Regions from separate parts of the Homo sapiens genome. Here all the other regions are reported to be linked to region 1. The links are microRNA targets in miRTarBase. Many come from high-throughput screens and were not tested one by one. Region 1 holds a microRNA gene; each other region holds the end of a gene's coding sequence.
Evidence for each region. Region 1 holds the annotated microRNA hsa-miR-328-5p (GGGGGGGCAGGAGGGGCUCAGGG, at 3,735-3,757, opposite strand). A microRNA usually pairs through its seed, bases 2 to 8, with sites in the 3' UTR of a target mRNA and lowers its output. Matches are read on the target gene's strand: a 7mer-m8 pairs with bases 2 to 8, a 7mer-A1 pairs with bases 2 to 7 and ends in A, and an 8mer does both.

Region 1 (5,058 bases):
AGAACCTGCAGGTGGTGGGGGCGGCTACCAAGAAGGAACAGAGGTCTCTGGGGAGGAGTCTGGGTGGTCCAGCCCTGATGATTGGCCCCACCTCCTGCTGCCCCATAACCCTCTCTTCATTTCGGCTTTTTCATTTACCCTCATTTAGAGCCATTTGCAGAGATTTAGAAAGATTTACAGTAACGAATGGATTCCTATATAAAGATTATTTTTATACTTTTTGCAGCAAAAGGAAATTGTAATATTTGTACAGTGTTCAAGTGAATAAAAACCATGCCTAAGGCTAGCTCTGATGTGGTTCTTTGGGGACCCTCCTTGGGACTGTGCTGGACTGGCAGTGTGATTGGGTGGGTCACCTTGCTGGAACTAGGGGTGGGGCGGCCTCCGGCAGCCTGCCCTCCCCGCCCCCACCTGCCGCACCTTGGTGTGGGGCGGGGCCGCCTCGGCGGGGCGGGGCAGGCGGAGCCGTCCTACCTTCCTACCCCCAGACTCCAACCCGGAACTAACCTCGGCTCCCTTGGGAAGGCCGCGTTGCATGGCCAGGAGCAGCAGTCTGGGCCGCGAGTGCGGGACACCGAGGTCAGGTCTCGGAAAGGGAGGACCTCCTCGTCCCCAGGGGCCCCAGGCCAGGTGCACCCTTGGCCGCAGGTGCACGGTCTCCGGAAAGTGCAGGCGCCCACGTCCCAGCTGGACCATGGCGCCTCCGCGGAACGTGGTGAAGATTGCCATCAAGATGCGTGACGCCATCCCGCAGCTCATCCAGCTGGACCAGGTCACCCGGCTGGTCCCGCCTCCATCTGCCCCACTGCCCCACCTCCCGGTAGCCCCCTGGCCCTCGGGGCAGCCCGCCCCACCCCTCCCCCCAGGCTCCTCCCCATCCCTCCCTGCCCAGGCCGCGAGAATGACCACTCCACTTGCAGGCGAAGCCCCTGGCCGCTGTGCTGAAGGAGGTGTGCGACGCGTGAGTGCTGCCGGGCCAGGGCCTGCGGAGGGCGGGAGGGCAGGAGGGGCGGCGCCCCCTGCCGGCCTCGCTGAGCCTCGTGCCCCTCAGGTGGAGCCTGACGCACTCTGAGCGTTACGCCCTGCAGTTTGCGGATGGGCACCGGAGATACATCACCGAGAATGTGAGTCCCCTCTCCCCAGCCCCAAGCTCGGCCTTCCGACCCCTCTAACCCACCTGGCCCCGATAACTCTGGCTCTTCATCCCACTACCGGAGCGCGATCTGTTATTCACCCCCAGCCGCCCTCACCGACACCCCAGTTGATCAGTCCTCGGAGCCCTCCCTGACCTCGCTGCCTTTTCTGCTGTCTTCTCCAGAACCGCGCGGAGATCAAGAATGGCAGCATCCTGTGCCTCAGCACGGCCCCAGTAATGCCCCTCCCGTCCCGCCTTCCCCATCCCTGCCCCTTTGCTCCAGGTCCAGAGGCCCCCCGCCCCGGAGGCCCCCGCCCCAGCCCTGCCTTGCGCCACCTAGTTGACGCCCGGGGCCGCACACTTCCAGGTCCCACCCTTACCATGCCCAGCCTCTTCACCTCTGCTCCTGCTCCGTTCCTGCCAGGACCTTGAGGCTGAGCAGCTCTTGGGTGGGCTGCAGAGTAACAGTCCTGAAGGGCGCCGGGAAGCCCTGAGGCGCCTTGTTCCGCTGGCCTCGGACATGATCTTTGCCAGGGAGGTCATCAGCCGTAATGGGCTCCAGATACTAGGCACCATCATTGAAGATGGGGACGAGTGAGCACAGGGATGTGTGGGCTGGGGGAGATGGTGGGTCTTTCTGGTCCTGGGGTGGTCCTGCTCAGCCCCAGATGTCCCCCCTCCAGCCTAGGAGAGGTGCTGGCCCTCAGCCTGAGGGCCTTCTCAGAGCTCATGGAGCACGGCGTGGTGTCCTGGGAGACTCTGAGCATCCCCTTTGTGAGGAAGGTGGGTGGGCTTTCCTAGGGCAGCGGGTGGGGGCAGTGGAGCAGTGGGGCAGTGGTAGACCCGGTCTTCCATGGGGGTGAGGTGGTGACACCCCCGCCCCTTACAGGTGGTGTGCTACGTGAACATGAACCTCATGGATGCCTCCGTGCCTCCCCTGGCCCTTGGGCTGCTGGAGAGTGTGACCTTGAGCAGCCCAGCCCTGGGCCAGCTGGTCAAGAGCGAGGTGCCCCTGGATAGGCTGCTGGTGCACCTACAGGTGTAAGCCTCTGGGGCTGGGGTCCAGATGCAGGGAGCAGGGCTGGAGCCTGAATGTTCCACTGAGCCCTCTTCTTGCCATAGGATGAACCAGCAGCTGCAAACCAAGGCCATGGCCCTGCTGACAGCCTTGCTGCAGGGGGCCAGCCCTGTGGAACGCAAGGTGAGTGTCGATCGGTGGCTAGATGGGGGCAGCACCCGGTGGGCGCTGCCCCACCCTGAAGCAAAATCCTCTAAGCCCCCCTTTTTTTTTTTTTTGAGATGGAGTCTTGCTCTGTCGCCCAGGCTGGAGTGCAGTGGTGCGATCTTGGCTCACTGCAAGCTCTGCCTCCCGGGTTCACACCATTCTCCTGCCTCAGCCTCCCGAGTAGCTGGGACTACAGGCTCCCGCCACCACGCCCAGCTGATTTTTTTTTTTTTTTTTTTTTTTTTAAGTAGAGACGGGGTTTCACTGTGTTAGCCAGGTTGGCCTCCATCTCCTGACCTCGTGATCCGCCCGCCTTGGCCTCCCAAAGTGCTGGGATTACAGGCGTGAGCCACCGCGCCCAGCCTAAGCCCCCTTTCTTTCTACCCCCTCAGCACATGCTTGACTATCTTTGGCAGAGGAACCTTCGCCAGTTCATCTATAAGGTAGGAAGTGGTGGGCCAGGGGGACCTCTCTGCCCCTCCCTCCCCGTGAGCCCTCGCTTACACCAGGGACTGGCTGTCCTGCAGAACATCATCCACAGTGCAGCACCAATGGGCGACGAGATGGCTCATCACCTGTACGTACTGCAGGCTCTCATGCTGGGGCTGCTGGAGCCGCGCATGCGGACGCCCCTGGACCCCTACAGCCAGGTGTGTGTCTTTGGTGAGGACAAGGCAGGGGGTGGCTTAGAGCTTGGCCTTGAATCTATAATCTTGATCCCCTCCCCCGCCACCCAACACTGACCCCAGGAGCAGCGGGAGCAGCTGCAGGTCCTACGCCAGGCTGCCTTCGAGGTGGAGGGGGAGTCCTCGGGTGCCGGGCTAAGTGCTGACCGTCGCCGTTCCCTCTGTGCCCGAGAGTTCCGCAAACTGGGCTTTTCTGTGAGTATCACCCCTACCCAACTCCCCACCCCTGCCTCAGCCCAGGGCTGTTGTTCCAGGCGGCCGTGGCCCTTCTTGAACTGCCTGTGCCCACTTCCCCCAGAACAGCAACCCAGCACAGGACCTGGAGCGCGTGCCCCCCGGTCTGCTGGCCCTGGACAACATGTTGTACTTCTCCAGAAACGCGCCCAGCGCGTACAGCCGGGTCGGTGACAGGGTAGGGTGGGGGGGTGGCAGCATCCCCCAGGCAGGGTCCCCATGGGCTTAGCTGTGACTCCTTGCCCCATTCTCTGCGCCCCCAGTTTGTGTTGGAGAACAGCAGCCGCGAGGACAAGCACGAGTGCCCCTTTGCCCGGGGCAGCATCCAGCTGACGGTGCTGCTGTGTGAGCTGCTCCGTGTTGGGGAGCCCTGTGAGTGGCCTGGACTGGGCACAGCATGGCCAAGAGCAGGGGACGGAAGGGCAGAGAGGGCCAGGGGCTGTATGCACTTTCTCCCTGAGCCCCTCCTGCCCCCCCACTCCAGGCTCTGAGACAGCCCAGGACTTCTCACCCATGTTCTTCGGCCAAGACCAGAGCTTCCACGAGCTCTTCTGTGTGGGCATCCAGCTGTTGAATAAGACCTGGAAGGAGATGCGGGCTACACAGGAGGACTTCGACAAGGTGGGTGGGGTGGGAGCTGGGAGGCCTGGGCCAGGGCAGGGGGCTGATCTGGGTACAGAGCTTAGGCCCTGAGCTGAGCTTGGGCGGCCCCAGGTCATGCAGGTGGTGCGGGAGCAGCTGGCCCGCACTCTGGCCCTGAAGCCCACTTCCCTGGAGCTCTTCCGAACCAAGGTGAATGCGCTCACTTATGGGGAGGTGCTGCGGCTGCGGCAGACTGAACGGCTGCACCAGGAGGGCACACTGGCTCCCCCTATACTGTGAGTCTGGGGGGATGGATCCTCAGTCCTAGCCCTACCTTCCTTGGTGCCCCCTGGGCTACTCCCCAGGTCAGATGTGCTCAGTGACACCCCTCTATCAGGGAGCTGCGGGAGAAGCTGAAGCCAGAGCTCATGGGCCTGATCCGCCAGCAGCGCTTGCTCCGCCTCTGTGAGGGGACGCTCTTCCGCAAGATCAGCAGCCGGCGGCGCCAGGGTCTCTGAATGGGCATGGGCAGGGGGCAGAGGGCAGGCAGAGGGCAGGCAGAGGGCGGCTGGCTTGGTGTCAGGACCTCTCAGCACTCTGGCCCTCTTCCCTTTCTCCACGCAGATAAGCTGTGGTTCTGCTGCCTGTCCCCCAACCACAAGCTGCTGCAGTACGGAGACATGGAGGAGGGCGCCAGCCCGCCTACCCTGGAGAGTCTGCCCGAGCAACGTAAGGCGGGCAGGGGCGGGGGCCAGATACCTGCTCTCCCCAGACCGCCCTGGGCCCCGGGGCTGCCAGGGCTGCAGTGCTCAGCCCAGCCTTCTTCCTGCAGTCCCTGTGGCCGACATGAGGGCACTCCTGACAGGCAAGGACTGCCCCCATGTCCGGGAGAAGGGCTCCGGGAAGCAGAACAAGGTGAGTACAGCGGGCCAGGGGCTCCTTCCCACCCGCCCCCGCCTACCCTGTCCCCTGCTCAGTGTCCCCGCTCCCTTGCTTCCCCAGGACCTCTATGAGTTGGCCTTCTCAATCAGCTATGACCGTGGGGAGGAGGAAGCGTACCTCAACTTCATTGCCCCCTCCAAGCGGGAGGTGAGTGTCCGCCAGGCTGAGGTCGGCAGGTGGGCAGGGGAGGCAGATGGGCAGACCCTCACGGCTCTGTGCCACCCCCAGTTCTACCTGTGGACAGATGGGCTCAG
Region 2 (5,072 bases), not on the chromosome of region 1:
TAGTAAAGAAACAGCAGAAATGACTTCCCTGCATTATTTCATGAAAATGATCAAAACCTTTATCTAAGTCAGAACATCAACAAGACTCTTGGTCTCAGGTCATCAGTTTCCTGGCACTCCTCCTCTCTCTAGCTGTAGTAGCAGCTACTGCTTGAAGACAACCTATATATCCCAGGCATACCCTCTACACGTATAAAAAGATGTGCAGGTGTTACAGACCACCTACACCTAATTCACTTCCTTTCTAATAAGATGGATGGAATAACTCGGAAAAGGGAAAGGAGGGATTTTGAGCCGCAGTTGTCTAAAGAATTATTGATTCACAGGGATCTCCAAGATCATGCATTTGAAGAGTTTTATTTCTCCACCCAAAGCCCTGCAGTGAAGAAAATCCAAGAATTAAGATGTAACATGTTGGCTGGGTGAGGTGGCTTGTGGCTTATGCCTGTAATCCCAGCACTTTGGGAAGTGTGGGGGGAGTGGGAGTGCAGATCACCTGGCCAACATGGTGAAACTCCATCTCTGCTCAAAATACAAAAATTAGCCGAGCGTGATGGCAGGTGCCTGTAATCCCAGCTACTCAGGAGGCTGAGGTGGGAGAATCGCTCGAACCCGGGAGGTGAAGATTGCAGTGAAGTCGAGATCGCACCATTGCATTCCCGCCTGGGAGACTCCATCTCAAAAAAAAAAAAAAAAAAATTAACATGTTGGCCCAGTGCAGTAGCTCACTCCTGTAATCCCAACCCTTTGGGAGGCCTGAGGTGGGAGGGTCACCTGAGGCTAGGAGTTCATGACGGGCCCAAGGCAACATAGCCATACCCTATTTCCAAAAATAAAAAAAAATAAAAAATTAGCCAGGTGTGGTGGTGTGCACCAGTAATCCCAGCTTCTCAGAGGAGGCCAAAGCAGGAGGATCACTTGAGCCCAGGAGTTGGTGGCCAAAGTGTGCTACAATCACACCACTGCATTCCAGCCTGGGTGAGAGTGAGACCCTCATGGGGTGGAAAAAAAAGATCTAACATGTTAACTTTAGGAACTATAAAATGCCTTCAGGTGTATGTGATCTGAAATTACAAGTGGTGACTTCTCAGAAAGCATATGAACACGGTGAATGTTGTAATGTTCTGAAGATAAGCTGATACTTAGTAGTGATATGTTCTAAAGACAAGAACATGAGGGCCCCAAAGCCTGTGTCATCAACTCTGCTTTGAGGTCACTAATTTTTAAATACAGAGCATAAAGTAGAACTCCAAACACTTGGGCAAGAAGAAAATCCATTGCAAATAGCCAACACATTTCTATTAAACCTCACATTTTCAATTTTGTATTTGGTTGAGAGTACTTTTTAAAAAAAGGCTTAAATCAATATTATCTAACACACACAAAAAATCTCATTAATTCTCCTCACTCTGGGCCAGATGCTGTGGCTCACACCTATAATCTCAGCACTTTGGGAGGCTGAGGCGAAATGATCGCTTGAGCCCAGGAGTCTGAGACCAGCCTGGGCAACATGGCAAAACCCCGTCTCTACAGAAAAAATAGAACAAATTAGCTGGGCATGGTGGCACGTGCCTGTCGTCCCAGCTACTCAGGAGACTGAGGAGGGAGGACCATTTGAACCCGGGAGGCAGAGGTCACAGTAAGCCAAGATCCCACCACTGCACTCCAGTCTGGGTGACAGTGATACCCTGTCTCAAAAAGATAAAAATAAAATTCCTACTCAGTAATTTTGGAGAAGACAAGGTTAAAATGTATCTTTGTACTTGTGAAAATGGCTTACAAAATTTTGAATCCAACAGACCCAAACTTGTCAGTGGCAGTCTAGTGTGGTAGAGAGAACAAACTGGACTTGCCACTTCCTTTAAGGTACAGCCAACAAATGTGTACCAAGTACTTCCAAGGACTCCTAAAGTGACTGGAGCCACTCACAACTATTGGTACAACTGCAGTAATTACAGCTGATTTACAGCTGTCCACTCAGGCAGGTATCACTCCTTCCTTTTTTGTTCTTAGTGTTCCCTAAATCTAATAAACCTCTATTCTAAATTTCTTCATAATTTAAACCTATGTTTAGTTGTGTGGCATATTTTTTCTCTCTTAATAGTACAAATCAGTGACGTTTACTCTATCTTTATTCTTGATTATATTGAATAAAGTTCAAGACAGAACATTCCAATATTAATAAAAATAGCATCAAATGTCAGATTTAGATTTTTTTTTTGAGACGGAGTCTCGCTCAGCCACCCAGGCTGCAGTGTAGTGGCACCATCTTGGCTCACTGCAACCTCTACCCGCCAAGTTCAAGCGATTATCCTGCCTCAGCCTCCCGAGTAGCTGGGACTACAGGCGCGTGCTACCACCATGCCCAGCTAATTTTTGTATTTTTTTCAGTAGAGACGGGGTTTCACCATGTTGGCCAGGATGGTCTCAAACTCCTGACCTCAGGTGATCCACCCGCTTCGGCCTCCCAAAGTGCTTGGATTACAGGCGTGAGCCACCACGCCTGGCCCCAGATTTAGATTTTAAATAAAACGTGAGGTACTGGGTCAAAGGGGGCTCTGCAGGTCGATGATCTCCTCAAACCTGCAAAGACATCCCATCTATGCAACTGGATTGGGGGGTGTCATTCCAAACACCCTCAGATCCTGCCCAGATATTCATCTGTGAACAAGGTATTTCAACACTAATTTTGAAACAATTCTACATCTAGCAGGTCAGTTTATCATTTTCCAGAATCTGAACTACTGTCAGGATAGACTCAAGTGAGATTAACACAGGGTTAATCTTCAATCTTAACACAATTATCAATTAGTTCTCCCAGTGGAACGATTAAGGCTTTTGTCAACATGTAGCATTTCTGCTGTAACCTATAAGTCTCATATTACCAGTTCCCCAGGATAGATAGATATTATGTCAGGTCCCAAGATAGGAGTTATGTTTCCATGGAATTAAGCCATATTCTCAGGACTGATTCTAGAACAGCTGGTTTCATGAGGCATATGGCGTAGATTAAAAAAAAACAAAACAAAGTGACTTACATTGACTTTAAGAAAAAATTAATTAAGATGTATTTAACCTTTAAGTATAGAATGATTGTATAAATTAGATTTCAACTGAAAGGACAATTAGCGATTCAGAGAAAGCTCCTAGAAATAGACTGAAAACAAAGCCATACATAGAGTAAGAAATAGAACCTATGGAACTTCCATTTTTCTAACTATAGTTTTTTGTTTTTGTTTTTTCCCAGTTGTTAAAAAAAAAACAACTCACAGTTTCAATATTTTCTGAACCAAAAATCAGAACACATGGTTTGTGTCAAAGGGTTTTTCTGTGCTACGTCTGGGAGTGCTGACCTAAGTGACATTTTTTTTTAATGCCAAATACAGTAATCTCCAAGCTTTTAATGGCTTATGCCAAGATGACAGAATATGTGAAATCTGATTGTCCCAGAGTTACACTCTGCACTCCAAAGCTACAACAGTGCCACAGCTGAGAGGTTTCCCTATACTTCCTACTACTGTGACAATTTAGCAATCCTTCAAATGGAAAATTCCTAATTACACGAGACAATGGTCCTACAGTAGGCCCGTGCGGAATAAGTTCCCTCGTTGGAAAAATGCTAGCATGAATAGTTTGATAAATGCAATCCATCAGCAAAGGAGAGCAAGCAGGCAGAGACTGTGCCAAGCAGAAACTCATTCGCATCAAGTTTTCCAATAAGTTTCCTTCCCCCAGTCCCTTTTCTTCAATCCTGCTTTTAAGCCAGGCCCCAGGGTAAGTCTGGTAGAACACTGAGCAGGAAAGCTTGGAAGGGTTCTACACCACTTCAAAAATACCTTTGCTTAAAAACACTTATATAGCCAGTGATTAGCAATTAAAATGTGAAAATAATCAACTACTCAGTAGTTAAATTCTGCTAATTATCAAAAGTCATAGTCTACTGGGATCAGCAGCATTACAAAAGGAAGTCATATCGCATTTCTTAAGCTTTTTCTGAATGGTTTAACAGGTCTCTTTCAGTGTTAATTGCACTTAAAACATCTGCTTTTTTTCATTTAATCTCTGAAATCTGTTCATTTTTTCCCTCCATTTATAAAAAGGGGTCAATTTATCATTTGCTCTATAGCTATTTGAATTCGAAAAAGATTCCACAAAATTTGAGTTGCACACAGGCGCTTTCTGAAGCAGATTAAACTTGTCCTTGTGACACTTCAGAGCTTGGACTGCAGTGACTTCAGGTGCTTGTAAGATTCGTGGACCTGTGGGGAAAGGAGAGAGAAGAACTACTAATAAAGAGTTTGCCATGTTAAATAGTATACTGTTTTTTGTTTTTGTTTTTGTTTTTTTTTTGAGACTGAGTCCTGCTCTGTTGCTCAGGCTGGAGTGCAGTGGCACAATCTTGGCTCACTACAGCCTCTGCCTCCCAGACTCCAGCGATCTTCCCACCTTAGCCTCCCGAGTTGCTAGAACTACAGGTGTGTGCCATGACACCTGGCTGCTATTTGTATTTTTTTGTAGAGATGGGGGTTTACCATGTTGGCCAGGCTGGTCTAGAACTCCTCAATTCAAGTGATCCACCCACCTCAGCCTCCCAAAGTGCTAGGATTACAGGCGTGAGCCACTGTGCCCAGCCTGTGGTTGTTTCTGAAGAGTCCTTATCTTTTAGAGCTATGCATTGAATTATTTATGGATAAAATTATCTGATGTCTTAGTTTTTTTTTTTTTTTTGAAACGGAGCCTCGCTCTTGTTGCCCAGGCTGGAGTGCAATGGCATGGTCTCGGCTCACCGCAACCTCCGCCTCCCAGGCTCAAGCAATTCTCCTGTCTCAGCCTCCCAAGTAGCTGGGATTACAGGCATGCGCCACCACGCCTGGCTAATTTTGTATTTTTAGTAGAAACAAGGTTTCTCCATGTTGGTCAGGCTGGTCTCAAACTCCCGACCTCAGGTGATCCACCTGCCTCGGCCTCCCAGGTGTGCATCACTGAGCCTGGCCCTGATGTCTTAGATTTATTTCAAAATAGTCCCCAGGAGGAGGGGGATGAAGGTTCAGATGAAACACAACTAGCCACGA
Region 3 (5,072 bases), not on the chromosome of region 1:
ATTGTGCCATTTTATAATGGAGGCAACTGCGTAACTGATGAGTTTGAAGAAGGCATCCAAGATATCATTCTGAGGCTGACACATGTTAAAACTGGAGGAAAAATCTCCTTGCGGAAAGCAAGGTATCACACTTTAACCAAAATCTGTGCGGTGCAAGAGATAATCGAAGACTGCATGAAAAAGCAGCCTTCCCTGCCGCTTTCCGAGGATGCACATCCTTCCGTTGCCAAAATCAACTTCGTGATGTGTGAGGTGAACAAGGCCCGAGGGGTCCTGATTGCACTTCTGATGGGTGTGAACAACAATGAGACCTGCAGGCACTTATCCTGTGTGCTCTCGGGGCTGATCGCTGACCTGGATGCTCTAGATGTGTGCGGCCGGACAGAAATCAGAAATTATCGGAGGGAGGTAGTAGAAGATATCAACAAATTATTGAAATATCTGGATTTGGAAGAGGAAGCAGACACAACTAAAGCATTTGACCTGAGACAGAATCATTCCATTTTAAAAATAGAAAAGGTCCTCAAGAGAATGAGAGAAATAAAAAATGAACTTCTCCAAGCACAAAACCCTTCTGAATTGTACCTGAGCTCCAAAACAGAATTGCAGGGTTTAATTGGACAGTTGGATGAGGTAAGTCTTGAAAAAAACCCCTGCATCCGGGAAGCCAGGAGAAGAGCAGTGATCGAGGTGCAAACTCTGATCACATATATTGACTTGAAGGAGGCCCTTGAGAAAAGAAAGCTGTTTGCTTGTGAGGAGCACCCATCCCATAAAGCCGTCTGGAACGTCCTTGGAAACTTGTCTGAGATCCAGGGAGAAGTTCTTTCATTTGATGGAAATCGAACCGATAAGAACTACATCCGGCTGGAAGAGCTGCTCACCAAGCAGCTGCTAGCCCTGGATGCTGTTGATCCGCAGGGAGAAGAGAAGTGTAAGGCTGCCAGGAAACAAGCTGTGAGGCTTGCGCAGAATATTCTCAGCTATCTCGACCTGAAATCTGATGAATGGGAGTACTGAAATACCAGAGATCTCACTTTTGATACTGTTTTGCACTTCATATGTGCTTCTATGTATAGAGAGCTTTCAGTTCATTGATTTATACGTGCATATTTCAGTCTCAGTATTTATGATTGAAGCAAATTCTATTCAGTATCTGCTGCTTTTGATGTTGCAAGACAAATATCATTACAGCACGTTAACTTTTCCATTCGGATCATTATCTGTATGATGTGGTGTGGTTTGTTTGGTTTGTCCTTTTTTTTGCGTTTTTAATCAGAAAACAAAATAGAGGCAGCTTTTGTAGATTTTAAATGGGTTGTGCAAGCATTAAAATGCAGGTCTTTCAGAATCTAGAACTAGGCATAACCTTACATAATACTAGGAAAATTATGAGAAAGGGGAAATTTTTGGTTAAATAAGAGTAAGGTTCAAACACAAGCAGTACATGTTCTGTTTCATTATGCTCGATAGAAGGCTTTTTTTTCACTTATAAGGCCTGATTGGTCCTACCCAGCTTAACGGGGTGGGGTTTTTTTGTTTGTTCAGACAGTCTGTTCTTTTGTAAACATTTTTAGTTGGAAAAACAGCATCTGCATTTTCCCCATCCTCTACGTTTTAGAGAGGAATCTTGTTTTTGTGTGCAACATAAGAAAATTATGAAAACTAATAGCCAAAAAACCTTTGAGATTGCATTAAAGAGAAGGGATAAAGGACCAGCAATAATACCTTGTAAGTTGCTTTTGTTTGTAAAATCTGAGCTTATAGTTTTCCTTAGTGAGTAAATTCATAAGGATGGGAACATTTAAATTAAGTTAATGGGCCTTTAAAAAAAAAAAAAGGAAACACTCATACCTGTAGTTGGAGGATGAATACTGGAGACGGGTTACCAATGTCAGGTTATACTAAAACTAAATCAGAAAGTCTGAATGTAGCACATAATGGTTCTCTTCTGTTGTCCAAGGCTGTAAAATGGACAGCCTTGTCACACCTCCCCGGTGCTGTTTTACAACGTGAGGGTAGACGCTGTCAGTAACCCAGAGGGACCAGGCCTTCCTAGGTTTTCTAGGCAGTCAGCTGTTAACCACTCACTTAGTAAATGTCATAACTACACCTGCTCCAGGACCAATCAGTGAAACCTGCTCGGAATTAAAGGCTTCCTCTGGGTGCCTGCTGAACAACTGAGCTCATGTCATGGGCATGTGGTGGTTTCTCTGTTGCCTGAAAGAGCCATTAAAGTCAGTCGTGCGTGAAGCATCTCTCTTCTAAAGGATGTGTATTTCCATAAATGCTTTCTGAGGATCCGGTACAAAATGATTTCCCAAAGTTCTGAAGTGCCTTGAGAACATGTGGGTCCGAGTGTTATAACAGACTCCTCCCCCGGGTCACCTTTTGCCTGGTCATCCTGTTAGAGTACATCTTTGGAAATCCAGGGTAATATTCTCTTTCAGAGATGCTCATTGTGTAACTCTGTGTAGGGAGATAGTCACTTTAAACAGCTCAAAGTAGCTAGCTAAAGGAGTAGCCTTAAATACCTAAAAGATGACAGAAGCATAGCCCTTAACAAATCTTCAGCTTGTCTCTCAGTATTTCCCAATCATGAAAATCCCTTGCTATGTCTTTCCTACTAGAAATGTTCTAGAATCGCTGGACGGTGGGGTCAGAGGGCAGTCGGTATTTAGGCCGTGAGCTTCCCATACTACTGCAGGTCCAACTCCTGGCAACCGCGGGCTCAAGGCAGGTCATTGGAATCCACGTTTTGGCCACAGTAGTTGTAGGATTGCTTTTCTGTATCATAATTTTAGAATGCTCTTAAAATCTTGAGGAAGAGTTTTTATTTTTTATTTATTTTTGAGATGGAGTCTCTGTTGCCCAGGCTGCAGTGCAGTGGTGCCATCTCAGCTCACTGCAACCTCCACCTCCCAGGTTCAAGCGATTCTCCTGCCTCAGCCACCTGAGTAGCTGGGAGTACAGGCATGTGGCACCATGCCTGGCTAATTTTTGTATTTTTAATAGAGTTGAGATTTCACCATGATGGTCAGGCTGGTCTCGAACTCCTGACCTCGTGATCCGCCCGCCTCGGCCCCCCAAAGTGCTGGGATTAACGGGTGTGAGCCACGGCGCCCAGCCCAGGAAGAGTTTTTAAATTAGAGCTCTGTTTAATTATACCACTGGGAAATCATGGTTACGCTTCAGGCATATTCTTCCCCAGAGTACTACTTACATTTTAAATTTCATTTTGTAAAGTTAAATGTCAGCATTCCCTTTAAAAGTGTCCATTGTTCTTTGAAAGTAGACGTTTCAGTCATTCTTTTCAAACAAGTGTTTGTGTACCTTTTGCCAAGCTGTGGGCATCGTGTGTGAGTACAGGGTGCTCAGCTCTTCCACCGTCATTTTGAATTGTTCACATGGGTAATTGGTCATGGAAATGATCAGATTGACCTTGATTGACTGTCAGGCATGGCTTTGTTTCTGGTTTCAATCTGTTCTCGTTCCTTGTACCGGATTATTCTACTCCTGCAATGAACCCTGTTGACACCGGATTTAGCTCTTGTCGGCCTTCGTGGGGAGCTGTTTGTGTTAATATGAGCTACTGCATGTAATTCTTAAACTGGGCTTGTCACATTGTATTGTATTTTTGTGATCTGTAATGAAAAGAATCTGTACTGCAAGTAAAACCTACTCCCCAAAAATGTGTGGCTTTGGGTCTGCATTAAACGCTGTAGTCCATGTTCATGCCAAAAATGGCTGGGAACGTTTGCTTTATTTACATTCAGTCAGCGTTGCTTTCAGATCACACTTTATCCACACAGGAAAGCCAGTCAGCCTATAATGAAGTAGTTATTAAAATAAATGTAATGAATATGTCTACAAAGTATAGTTTAGTGGTTTATTTTGCTAAAATGCACATATATTTGATATAATTTAGTTTGAGAAGTTCAGCTAGTTTTTCTCCTTTGTTTGACTTTGTCAATTTCTATCTGGTTTTTAAGGGTCTGAGCTTAGCTTGTGCATGCAAGGTTTTGGGTTTTTTTATTTTTTTTTTGAGCACAGCTTTTCACCTTTTAATTTGTTGGGTATTTTTCTCTTAATAAGAGAAATATTGGCCATCGATTTTTACATATAATACAAGTGTGTTTTTCCAGTACATTGGTTCCTGTCCCCTCTCTGTGAACTGTTTGAGTATTGGAACAGTATGTCTTCAATAATTCAATGTTACTTTGAGATACATGTGTTAATATACCCTTAGTTATTCTTGAAATAAAACCAGTCTCTTACGCTTGCAGTGGAGAAAGGCTGTGAGTCTGAGGTGTGTGTTCTCTATATATTATCACCTTCATGAACTGTCTGACCTGGGTGCGGAGCCCTTTTTTTTTTTTTTTTTGAGACGGAGTCTGGCTCTGTCACCCAGGCTGGAGTGCAATAGCGCGATCTCGGCTCACTGCAACCTCCGCCTCCCAGGTTCAAGCAATTCTCCTGCCTCAACCTCCCGAGTAGCTGGGATTACAGGTGCCTGCCACAACGCCTGGCTAATTTTTTGTATTTTTAGTAGAGACAGGGTTTCACCATGTTGGCCAGGATGGTCTCGAACTCCTGACCTCAGGTGATCCACCCGCCTCAGCCTCCCAAAGTGTTGGGACACAGGTGTGAGCCACCGTGCCCAGCTGAGGAGTCCTTCCTTAATGGAGCCCACAGCAGGCAGGCCTGGGGGCAGGTGGCCTCCTTGGCTGCAGTTGGTGGCCATGCTGTAAGGAGGTGAGGGTGGTTGTGTGTGGGCCAGGACCCAGGCCCAGGTGACCAGGTCACTGTGCTCTTGTTGAGACAGCCTAGGAAGTATGTGTGTGATGGGGGTGGGGGCCTCATGCTCTGCTCCCTCAGGAGGATGCCTGGGTCTCAAATAAGAATTGACTTTATTTTTAGAAAGAAGAACCTCTGAGACAGTTCTTGAAAGATCCACTCTCCAGAGGAGAGTTGTGATAGTGTGCTATGAAACCGTCTTCACTGCTTTGTGACGGAGGTGTGGGAGTCTTTCTGTCTATTCGGCCCTTCCCGGCTGTGTGAGGTGTTCTGAC
Region 4 (5,072 bases), not on the chromosome of region 1:
GGGAGGGGGCAGGGGGAGGGAACAGGTGGGGAGGGGTCGTGGTGGGGGGACAGGTGGGGAGGGGGCGTGATGGGGAGGGGGCACGTTGGGTGGGGAGGGGGCACGGTGGGGAGGGGGCGTGGTGGGGAGGGGGTGCGGTGGGGAGGGAGAGCGGTGGGGAGGGAGAGCAGTGGGGAGGGGGCAGGTGGGGAGGCCCTGTGGGGAGGCCTGGTGCGGGCCCAGGTGGCTCCTCGTCGCCCCAGGGTGGGGGCCCCTCCTGGAGGCCTGTGGCCAGGCGGTAGGAACAGCCTGGCAGGAGTGCGGTCGCGCCGGGTCTGCAGAAGGGGCTCCGGTGGCCCAATGGCGCCCCCTGCAGGCTGTTGGGGTCCAAAGGCTCAGGCAGAAGCCCCAGGAGTTCGGGGTCCCCAGAGCTCGGGGGCAGCCAGGACGTACACGTTCCACCCCTCCAACCCACGGCACAGGTGGCACGCGCACCTGCTACTGGAGCACACCCCAAGGAAGGCCTGGGCTCGGGCAGAAGCCCCTCCTTGGACCTCGTCCAGCCTCAGCCCTGTGGGGACAGGGCTTTTCCCTCACGTGCTCCAGCTTCCTGAGCGGCTGCTGGCCCGGTCCTGCCCCTCACAGAGCTCCCTAAGAGAGACAAGGGATGTGCGCTCAGCCCACCAGGGCAGTCCGGCGCGGCGCCGGGGCTTAGTCCCCAGGCCTCCGGGGGTCCTTCCCAGAAAGTGGAGTGATGGGCTGGAGGAGGGACCTCCGGCAACCACGTGGGCTTGCAGCGACCCTCACTGGCATGGACCTTGGGGACCGAAAGGGGTCTGGGGTTCAGCCTGGGCTGGGGACAGCTCCTGAGTCCATGGGAGGGTGATCTGGGTCTGCCTGCAGGCTGGGTGAACTCTCTCCCGGGGCTCAGGCTGGGTAGGGCAGGGTGGGGGCTGCAGAGGGGTGCCTGGCAGGGAACGCTCGGGCTGTGGTCAGCTTGTCCTGGCCTATCTCCCTCGCCCCCACCCCCTCTTCCATCCAGCCTGGTGGCTGGCGGCCCCTGGAGAGAGCATGGGGGCATGGGAGTGAGCTTGGAGGGGCAGCCCCACCGGCCCTGTTGAAAGGGTCTTGACCAGCCCAGGGAGGCAGCTGCAGGTTCCACTCCTAGGTGGCCTTAGAGGGGTGGGGGTGCCCCACAGACCTAGCTTCTCCATGTGGGCTGAGCCCTGCACTCCCCTCGGGATTTGGATATTGGCTGCAGGGGGAGCTGGGCAGTGGGTGGGCACCAGGCTGGACAGCCCCTCGGACGGCGGGGTCTCATCCTGCCTGGGACCAGATGGCTTGCACCACAGACACGTGTTTCTCTGGGTTCTGGAGGCGCCAAGTCCGCCATCAGGGTGCTGGCGGGTCAGTTCCTCCAAAGTGCTCTCCCGGCCTGCTGCCTTCCCGCAAGGACACTAATCCCAGCAGACCAGGGCCTCACCCTCACGACCTCGTCTAACCCTCACCCCTCCTTCCAATGGGGCACGTCGGGGGGGTGTTTCTGAGCCCTGCCCTGAGCTGTGGGAAGGGCAGAGCCGAGCGCTGCCTCCATGACTGTGTATGAGGACTCCCACGGAGGCAGCCCCCAGGACAGCTCCTGTTTCCTTGAGCCCCCCACAAGGCGACTGCGTGGATGTGCAGGGGGTCCGGGGCTGCGGAAGTCCAGGCCACGGCTGCGTGCCCAGCTCAGGTCATGTTTACCAGGCAGGCCAGTGCCAGGGCCCCCGCCCGGCCTCGCAGCCCTGAGTTAACTCAGGCTCCAGGATAAACACCCATTCAGCCACACAAGGCCCCTTTGTCCTGGGAGAGAGGCTCCCGGCCCAGGACGCTGCCTGGTGGCCGGTGTCCTCGGCGCGGCCCCAGGCCCGGCCAGGTGCCCTGACACGTTCAGCCGCCCTGCACGGCCTTCTCCGGGCAGGCTCCCGGCTTGGCTCAGAGAGGCCCCAGCAGGGGACAGGGCCCTGGGCAGCTGTCAGAGGAGCCAGAAGGCCAGACCGGCAGGGCTGAGTGAGGAGGAGGACCTGGCAGCCGCCTTGTGTCCTGAGACCTTGTCAGAGCAGAGCTGACCCGGCAAAGAGAGGTGGGAGTCCTGCGGCCGGACATGCCTGTGGGCAGCGGGGAGGCCGAGGCGGGCCGTGCTGCCCATAGGGCAGCTGGTGAGCTCTGGAGGCTCGAGGGCCCTTCTTCTCCCCCATATCCTCAACCCCAAGCAGGAGAGGGGGCCCACACCCTGTGCTTGGCCCGTCTCCCCCGGCCAATGGCCACTGGTCTGTGGGCCTCGGTTTCTCGTCTGTGAAGTGGGCCACGGAAGGCTCTCAGAGGCCCCTCAGCCAGGGATTACACCCTATTGTTACCCAGGCTCGGGGCTGAGATGGGGGTTGCTGCCCACGGGAGGGAGGGGCGCGATGGTCCTGGGAAGCCAGTCAGGAGGTGCCGCAGGAGCACAGGTGGGCTGTGGAGGGGGAGGGAGTGGCCCCCAGGCCCCCCTGAGGCTGGCCCAGTCCCTGCCCCAGCCGTGACTGGCCATGGCCCGCTGTGGCCGTCCATCCCTGTGCCAGGCCCCCTCCTCCAAACGTGCTAAGAACAAATGCACCCTCATGCCCTTGGGGACACCCCACTGGCCACCCAGGCTGAAGCCCCTGCCCGCCCCTCAGCCTCCCTGGCGGTCCATGCGGCTTCTTGGCACCCGTGCCCCGCCCCTTCAGGGTGTCACCCACCTGGTCCGGTCCCTGCATGGCCCATGGCGGCAAGCGACCCCTGGCGGCGGCTGGGGGTGTTGTTGCGCCCACCCGAGGTCAGTACTGCAGTGCTGCTCACCAGGCCAAGGGGCAGACTCGCAGAGCCTTGGAAGCAGGTCCTGGGACTGCAACCCCCAGGCTCAGACACTACTGGGGCCAGGTGACTGCGGCCAGATCTCGGCCTGGGTCCCTCCCTATGTGGGGAGCCCCACTCTTCACTGATGGGAGAAAACGGCTTTTCTGGACGGCGTGATCTGGGCACAGCAGCAGCACCGACCCCTGGAAACAGGTTACAGCGTCAACCCTTGGTCTTGCCTGGCCCCTCAGGAGGCCCTGGCCCTCTGGCTGGTGCTGGGGTCCTAGGTGCCATGGCTGAACCCAGTGACCAGCATCTCTCAGCTCGGTACCCAGGTTCCCGGGATGCCCCAGCTGGGCCAAGCCTCTGCCTGACCAGAAGGGCTCCTGGAACTGCCTTGGGTTCCAGTGTGCCTGTCTGAGTTTGAGATCCGCAGGACGGGACTGCTGGAGATGGGGTTAGGGTCGGGGAGGAAGCCCTGCCGTGTGGAGACAGAACTTCCTCAGGGAAGCCTGTTTTGCTCTGAAGTCTCCACGCCCCCAAGGACGAGGACGACAGGAGCTGAGCAGCTGCACCTGCAGGGGGCCTCCCTCCACACCCACACCCAGGTGAGCGCTCAATTAGCTGGGGCTGCAGGCTCGCCAGGTCGGCACCAGAATCAGAGCCACCGGCATGCATGCCTGGCTGTTCACAGTTTTTGTTTTATATGAAAACTTCCCCGTCTCTACTAAAAATACAAAAAATTAGCCGGGCGTGGTGGCGGGCGCCTGTAGTTCCAGCTACTCGGGAGGCTGAAGCAGGAGAATGGCGTGAACCTGGGAGGCGGAGCTTACAGTGAGCCGAGTTCACGCCACTGCACTCCAGCGTGGGTGAGAGACTGTCTCAAAAAAAACAAAAAACAAAAAAACAAACAAAAAAACGAGTCCATTTGGACTTTGATGTGTGTACCTGAGGCCAGGACCATGTAGCCAACCCGAGGTGGCCGGGGCAGACTGGGCAGGCCTGAGCCTCCTCTATCCACTGGCTGTCCCTGCCCCTCGGCAGGGTGGCCTGAGCCTGGGGTAGGCAGGGACCAAGTGGCCAGCTCTGAGGGGAAGGGAGGGCACCTGCGGGTCGGCTCAGCCTCAGGCTAGAGCTGGGAAACCTTTGCTTCATCAAGACCAGAGCGGCTTCAGTGTTTAAATTGAAAGGAAACTTTTATTGAGTCATGTTTTCAAAGCAATCTAGTTTTTAAAAAAGTTGAAGACAAGACAGAAAAAAGAACATGACACCTAAGAGAATCAGACAGGACAGACAGACGGGAGCAGGGGGGCGGGGACAGCGGCTCCGTGGAGGTCAGATCTTCTCCATCTTGGAGATGAGGTCGTCGCAGATCCTGGTCAGCTCCTCGTTCTCTTTAGTCTGGAGGAGGAAGATGAGTTGCGGGGCTTCTCCCTGCTTGGAGGGAGCAGCAGGCCCAAGGGCCTTCTAGAAGGTGCTGCCAGACGGCCCCTTGAGCTGGGCTTCCCGCACCCACCTTCTGCTCCACTGTCTTCTCCAGCGACTGGATGCGCATCTGCTCCTTCCTCAGGCTGGCCTGGAGGGCCAACGCTTCCGCCTGGGCCTTGCTCCGGACCTGGGCGATCTCCTCGTTTGCCCTGGAGGGGTAGGGGCGGGGCAGAGGCTGAGCTGGGGCCCAGGTGCTCAGATTCTCCCTCCAGGGTGGGGCCTCGCCCAGCACTCACAGCTGCAGCTTCTCCTCCGCGTGGGCCTTCAGGGCTTGGTACCTCTGGCCCTCCTGGGTGATCCTTGCCAGGTAATCCTCCACGCACTTCTTCAGTGACTCTTCGTTCTAGGAAGGGGCAGGCATTAGCTGTGGGTACCACGCCGTCTGCTGGAGAGCACCCAGGCTTGGTGTCTGGGGACCTGCAGATCCTCGAGGCTGTCTGGGGCATCAGCCGTGAGCCAGTAGCTCCCGTTTTCCTTTTGGAAAAAGCCCCTTCACACAAGTTCCCAGCTCACCCCCTCTGGAGGTTCAGGACAGCCCTGGCTCTCCACCCTGAGATGCCGGGCCTGAACCTGGTGCCCTCACGGCTGGGCCCCCTCCTGCCACACCTGCAGCCTCTGCTGGCACCAAGTGCTGCTGGAAAGTGGGATGCACCTGGGACCACTGACAGCCCAGCCCGTCTCCCTCTGGAGCTGAGCCCTGTGCTTTGGGGACAGGCAGGGGAGGCCAGCAGGAGCCACATGGTTACCCA

Region 2: the mRNA of ACOX1 is a reported target of hsa-miR-328-5p. Seed matches in the 3' UTR shown: 7mer-A1 at 2,615-2,621 and 7mer-A1 at 472-478.
Region 3: the mRNA of BAG5 is a reported target of hsa-miR-328-5p. Seed matches in the 3' UTR shown: 8mer at 3,082-3,089.
Region 4: miRTarBase lists TACC3 as a target of hsa-miR-328-5p. Seed matches in the 3' UTR shown: 7mer-m8 at 4,142-4,148.

Annotation. Positions count from the first base shown.
Region 1 is chr16:67,198,633-67,203,690 of GRCh38, forward strand. It overlaps MIR328 (microRNA 328), which reads right to left and starts at 3,763; the gene lies at 3,689-3,763. It overlaps E2F4 (E2F transcription factor 4), which reads left to right. Exons shown (of 10, transcript NM_001950.4): 10 at 1-286. ELMO3 (engulfment and cell motility 3) reads left to right here and starts at 499. Exons shown (of 20, transcript NM_024712.5): 1 at 499-772; 2 at 921-961; 3 at 1,052-1,124; 4 at 1,319-1,369; 5 at 1,560-1,729; 6 at 1,819-1,918; 7 at 2,025-2,176; 8 at 2,258-2,336; 9 at 2,753-2,803; 10 at 2,888-3,010; 11 at 3,110-3,241; 12 at 3,345-3,446; 13 at 3,544-3,652; 14 at 3,765-3,901; 6 more. The coding sequence starts at 695.
Region 2 is chr17:75,942,537-75,947,608 of GRCh38, forward strand. It overlaps ACOX1 (acyl-CoA oxidase 1), which reads right to left. Exons shown (of 14, transcript NM_004035.7): 14 at 1-4,259. The coding sequence ends at 4,212. Among named protein-coding and RNA genes, the nearest start is that of FBF1, 4.0 kb to the left of the region's middle.
Region 3 is chr14:103,555,769-103,560,840 of GRCh38, reverse strand. BAG5 (BAG cochaperone 5) reads left to right here. Exons shown (of 2, transcript NM_001015048.3): 2 at 1-4,290. The coding sequence ends at 1,020. Among named protein-coding and RNA genes, the nearest start is that of BAG5, 4.4 kb to the left of the region's middle.
Region 4 is chr4:1,744,112-1,749,183 of GRCh38, reverse strand. TACC3 (transforming acidic coiled-coil containing protein 3) reads right to left here. Exons shown (of 16, transcript NM_006342.3): 14 at 4,560-4,666; 15 at 4,352-4,472; 16 at 4,013-4,236. The coding sequence ends at 4,171. Among named protein-coding and RNA genes, the nearest start is that of TACC3, 25 kb to the right of the region's middle. RefSeq lists a silencer at 163-362.